Homo sapiens: one gene and its partner. The protein of the gene in region 1 purifies or fractionates together with the protein of each later gene. This does not show direct contact. Each region holds a gene or a part of one and is shown in the gene's direction. Other genes may lie near its edges.

Evidence for each region.
Region 2: the proteins of TIMM21 (region 1) and PPARA purify together in Homo sapiens (co-immunoprecipitation; one large-scale study listed by IntAct). This does not show direct contact.

Annotation. Positions count from the first base shown.
Region 1 is NC_000018.10:74,158,523-74,161,031, forward strand, and holds the end of TIMM21 (mitochondrial import inner membrane translocase subunit Tim21 precursor), read left to right. Parts: 3' UTR 1-2,009; downstream 2,010-2,509. UniProt on the Homo sapiens protein: Participates in the translocation of transit peptide-containing proteins across the mitochondrial inner membrane.
Region 2 is NC_000022.11:46,230,526-46,234,025, forward strand, and holds part of PPARA (peroxisome proliferator-activated receptor alpha), read left to right. Parts: intron 1-1,266; coding exon 1,267-1,714; intron 1,715-3,500. UniProt on the Homo sapiens protein: Ligand-activated transcription factor. Key regulator of lipid metabolism. Activated by the endogenous ligand 1-palmitoyl-2-oleoyl-sn-glycerol-3-phosphocholine (16:0/18:1-GPC). Activated by oleylethanolamide, a naturally occurring lipid that regulates satiety.

The DNA of each region.
Region 1 (2,509 bases):
TCCGTTCTTCACAGCTGCCTTCCAGAATGTGTTCAAAAGAAAGACAAGAAGGAGTGTATGGCTTATAAAGTGAATCTAATACAGTATTTGTTGCATTTAAACAAACTAGACATTTTCTTACGGAAAAATTATGAAATACAGCATATTTTATGTTCTCCCATTGACTCAATCATGACAATATTTCTGCTTTAACACCATCTTTCATGATTAGAAATGTTTGTTATTGGAAATGTTACACCATGTAAATAAAGGAAATAGATTTTAGTATTGTATTCATTTTATATTATAGAACTGCATAATGTCTGCAGAATAAAATTAAAACTAACAAATATGTCATTAGCAGCTGCCCTCCGCATACTTTGGAATCTGACTTGAGATAAGCATGTGAAAATGGTTGAGGGCCATAGGGAACCAGATGGTAAATACATTCTTCAAAATTGTGTGAGTTTTAGGAATCTGTCTCATATTTCGCGCTTCATGAATTAAGGGCCTAGTACATAGCGGGAAAAGTACACACTCCCAAGTTGGGTAGACCTGGGCACCCACCCCACCTTTTCTAGCAGGTGCGTGGTCAAGTGTCCCTGTTGTGTGGGTTGTTAGGATGGCAGTGTGATGAGAGGTACAAGCCTGGACCATAGAAGGCAGCCATGAAGTGCCCTCATCCCCTTTAGAACTTACTTGCACTGATACTTCTGACTGCCAAAAGAACATGGGAGTGAATGAGAGACATTCAAATACGTGTGTGAGGCCCCTTAAAGAAAAAAAAAAAAAAAAAGGAAATTCTATTTTATTTGAAATATTTGCTGGGGATTTGGAAAAAAGTGACCTTCACTTACAAGATCCTGATTCCATATCTATGTAAGTGCTATGTGCATTGGGAGGGGTCTAGAACCATGTTTATCTGCGGTGGCTTCAGTGTGAGGTATCCCCTCTGATGTGTTTGTTCCTTCTCCCCGAGAACTGTCTGTAGAGGAATTTCTGATGTGTTCTTGAAATTTTGGGATATTCAGGATAGAGAGACCTCCAGGCAATCTATCTCCCCTTTTTACTTTATCTCCCTGCTTAATTTAGTTAGTTTCTTGGTTTGACTGCTTGTTTTAGATGTTTTTAATTATAAAAATTTCCAACATTTAAGGAGTATAGAAAATATAACAGACACTCGTCTCCCTGACGTAACACACTTTGACTGAATGAGGCCTTAACTTAGGCTTTCTCTCCTAATCGTTTTTTCCTTTGCTATAGAATGTTCAGTTTCAGGATTCACTGAAATGTCAACATTTAACAGGCTGAGAAGTTCCACTTGCTATCCTAAACTCAAAAAAGCAGCCCTGCTCTTCAAACAACCTGCTCAAACTGTAGCTTGCTGAAGAAGCCCGGCATCTGAGCTCAGGTGGGGATTTAGCCACCCTCCATGGCCCTGTCATTTGACTTAAGACTGTTTGCTTTTTCTGTATTCATTTTTATGCACCTGCCATTTTACAATATGCTCATGCCCCTTTAAGATCTGAGCTTTTGGCCAGGCGAGGTGGCTCATGCCTATAATCCCAGCACTTTGGGAGGCTGAGGCAGGTCAATCACTGGAGGTCAGGAGTTCAAGACCAGCCTGGCCAACATGGTGAAACCCTATCTACTAAAAATTCAAAAAAAAAAAAATTAACCAGGCACGTTGACACACTCCTGTAATCTCATCTACTCAGGAGACAGGAGAAGCGCTTGAACCCAGGAGGCAGAGGTTGCAGTGAGCCAAGATCATGTCACTGCACTCCAGCATGAGTGACGGAGTGTGACTTCGTCTCAAAAAAAAAAAACAAAAAACAGATCTGAGCTTTTATAATTAGAAATAAAACTAAATTACTTTTTCAAAAGGAAAAACTCTGTACCAATAAGAGATTCTTCTGTATAGCCACAGGAAAATGTGATGTGTAACTCTCTAGATCTCTGTTTTCATTCCCTCTGATGTACCCTACTAAATGTTAAAATTTCTGTGTTTTAAGACCCTCTTTAATCCACTTTGATTGTGGTGTCTCTGTCCATGGGCTTACTCCCACTTTTTCTCTGAATTCTAGGGCACTTATCTGACTCTGCCTGGTATCCCCTTCCGTCATATTTGTGAATTTGCAAATGCTCTGGTCATTTTCCTCCAAGGCCTCTGTCATTCCTCCACACCTGATCAGTGAACTCTTTTCACAACTAACTCTAGAGCAGACTCTCCTGTCACTGTTTGCTCTTCCTCCTTAATGAAGAAATTATATGCAAGGCAAGAGTTTATCAGAAGTTCTGCTTTTAGCCCCGTGAGATTTCCAGCCTAACTACCCTGCAAGCTCCCTTCATAACTATTGTTGATCAATGCTAGTAATACTTTATCCATTTATTTCCATTTGGTAAGCCATTACAATATTACTTCTGTTTCTCTTATTCTCATCCAGAGACAGTTCCCCAATTCCTAATTCATAGATTTCTACTCAGGGTTACACTTACTATTTATTTTATATAGTACCACTCATGTGTT
Region 2 (3,500 bases), on another chromosome or scaffold:
CATTTTCCCCGGCTCTCCCACACATGTAATCCCTTCTGAGCATGTTGGCTTCAAATAATATGGCCAGCCACCTCTTCCACCACGAGATCTTCAGGAAATGGCAGGCCACTGGGTTTACATGCAGATGGCATGGGAGCACACAAGGCACGGCTGTGGGGAGTTGGCACTTGCTCCAGAATATGGAGCACCGAGTGAAGGTTTCAGTTTCCTGCACTGAGAGAAACAAGGGCATTCCGAGGCTTTTCCACTTTATCCCTAAAGAGTTTCACAACGCTTGTTTGCCGATTTCTACATAGATGCCACCTTTCTGAGTTGTATGTATTTACATGCCAAATGTATTCATTGAGCAGCGTTAAATAATGGTGTTCACCCCTAAAGTGCATATACTGGTAAAATTAAGAATGATCGTAATTAAGCCTCTTGCAATAGTCATTAGTTCAGAGAATATTTAAGAATATTAAAGGTGCTTTGCTAATGTCCTCGTTAGTTTTGTTTTGACAAAATCAGTACTTCAGTTTCTTGTTTCTTTTTTTTTTGAGACGGAGTCTTACTCTCGCTCTGTCGCCCAGACTGGAGACTGGAGTGCAGTGGCACGATCTTGGCTCACTGCAACGTCCACCTCCCAGGTTCAAGCGATTCTCCTGCCTCAGCCTCCCGAGTAGCTGGGGTTACAGGCACACACTATGCCTGGCTAATTTTTTTTTTTTTTTTGAGACGGAGTCTCGCTCTGTCACCCAGGCTGGAGTGCAGTGGCGCAATGTCGGCTCACTGCAAGCTCTGCCTCCTGGGTTCACGCCATTCTCCTGCCTCAGCCTCCCGAGTAGCTGGGACTACAGGCGCCCGCCACCACACCCAGCTAATTTTTTTGTATTTTTAGTAGAGACGGGGTTTCACCATGCTGGCCAGGCTGGTCTCGAACTCTTGACCTCAGGTAAACCACCCACCTCAGCCTCCCAAAGTTCTGGGATTACAGGCGTGAGCCACCATGCCCAGCCCAGTACTTCAGTTTCTTAGCGATGAAATCCACCCAATGTCAGGCGATGACTATTATTATTTTACTGATTTATACTGTTTGTTCTCTATTAATGTCTTATTTTCCCCAACCGATTTTGAAGTTGAGTAAGGACTATGTTCCGCGGGTATCTTGAGTCCTCTGAGGCACTGAGCTTGGTGATTTGGACGCAGGAGCTGCTCATTAGTGAGCTGATAGCTGGGAGCATAGCGCATCCCACATCACCTGACTTACCTTGGTGTCCTCCTTTGTAGCCTTTTGTCATACATGATATGGAGACACTGTGTATGGCTGAGAAGACGCTGGTGGCCAAGCTGGTGGCCAATGGCATCCAGAACAAGGAGGCGGAGGTCCGCATCTTTCACTGCTGCCAGTGCACGTCAGTGGAGACCGTCACGGAGCTCACGGAATTCGCCAAGGCCATCCCAGGCTTCGCAAACTTGGACCTGAACGATCAAGTGACATTGCTAAAATACGGAGTTTATGAGGCCATATTCGCCATGCTGTCTTCTGTGATGAACAAAGACGGGATGCTGGTAGCGTATGGAAATGGGTTTATAACTCGTGAATTCCTAAAAAGCCTAAGGAAACCGTTCTGTGATATCATGGAACCCAAGTTTGATTTTGCCATGAAGTTCAATGCACTGGAACTGGATGACAGTGATATCTCCCTTTTTGTGGCTGCTATCATTTGCTGTGGAGGTGAGTGGTTGATTTAATCTGCTGGTATCATGTCACTGACAGGCTCCTGTCTTGAAAAATTTGACAATGGGAAATCCAGTACCAGCCTGAGCTGTTCCAGTGGAGGGGACACTCACATGGTGGGAAGACGTCTGACCCCCAGTCACTGCTGAGAATTCAGTGGGAATTATAACAATATTGTATAATATTATAGTATATATTGTTATTATCTATAAATACATATTTAATATTATGTAAATGTATGACATTTTAATCATAATATTAGCCAGGTGTGGGGGTGCACACCTTTAGTCCCAGCTACTTACTCAGTAGACTGAGGCAAAAGGATCTCTTGAGCCCAGGAGTTCAGGTTGCAATGAGTTATGAATGCACCACTGCACTCTAGCCTGGGCAACAGAACAAGACCTATTTCTTTAAAAAAAAATTATATATTTTGCACAAATATATATATAGAGAAAAAGAGGTCGGACATGGGCCTGTAATCCCAGCCCTTTGGGAGGCTGAGGTGGGTGGATCACTTGAGCCCAGGAGGTTGAGACCAGCCTGGGCAACATGGCAAGACCCCGTCTCTACAAAAAAAAAAATAGAAAAAATTAGTCAAGTATGGTGGCATGTACCTGTAGTCCCAGCTACTTGAGAGGCTGAGGTGGGAGGATCACTTAAGCCCAGGAGACAAAGGTTGCAGTGAGCCAAGGTCACGCCACCACACTCCAGCCTGGGCGACGAAGAATGACCCTGTCTCAAAAAAAAAAAAAAAAAAAATTATACACACACACACACACACACATTTCGTTTATATTATATCTAATATTATAAACAGATATAATTTATATATTATGATATTCCTGTATATATTATATAATGATGTTGTATTCATATTATAGACAATATTGTATGAAGTGCTATACAGATGTCAGTATAGTTGCTGTCACAGTTGGTTATGTTGATGAAAAGTATATTTCCTAATGCAAAATATAATATCAGTCAGCAGCCAAGTGGCAGTGACTGCAAGGTTTGCTTTGCCCGAGGAAGCAGATCCCAGGGAAGGCCGATCTGGTCCTCTCTGTGGAAGCTGGCTCTGCAGCCTCCACATTTTTGGCTCGGTGTCACGTTCCTTTAAATAGCCCCATCTCAGGTCTAGGAAGGTCATCCACCTACTGCAAACTCGGCTGACCTTACCCAGGGTTGGTGGAGACAGATGGGGTCTCCCACACTGCCTGCAGCCATACTGCGCCTGGGGGATTGACTCACTGTCAGCATGGAGCTGACTCAGCCCTACCAGCCGTGCCCGTTACTGTGTGGCTGGGCACAAGTCAGATGAAGGAAGTCCTTGCGCTCTGGCATAAAGTGTACAAAGACAAAGCAGTTATGCATAATTTGTCCTTTAGTATGGTCAGGATGTAGCATTGTGGGTAAAATGCAGTTGCAGAACTATTTATATGTAGCATGATCACAGTTTTATAAAGGAAATTATAATCCTATATCAATCCTATGTATATAGAAAAATGTCCAGTGAGATATATGTTAAACCTATTATGGTGGGATTAAAATTATGAGGGGGGATTTCTATTTTTCAAAAGATTCCTCCTTTTTTTTTTTTTTGAGACAGAGTCTCCGTCTGTCACCCTGGCTGGAGTGCAGTGGCACGATCTCAGGTCACTGCAACTTCCGCCTCCTGGGTTCAAGTGATTCGCCTGCCTCAGCCTCCTGAGTAGCTGAGATTACAGGAACATGCCAGCACACCTGGCTAATTTTTGTATTTTTAGTAAAGATGGGGTTTCACCAT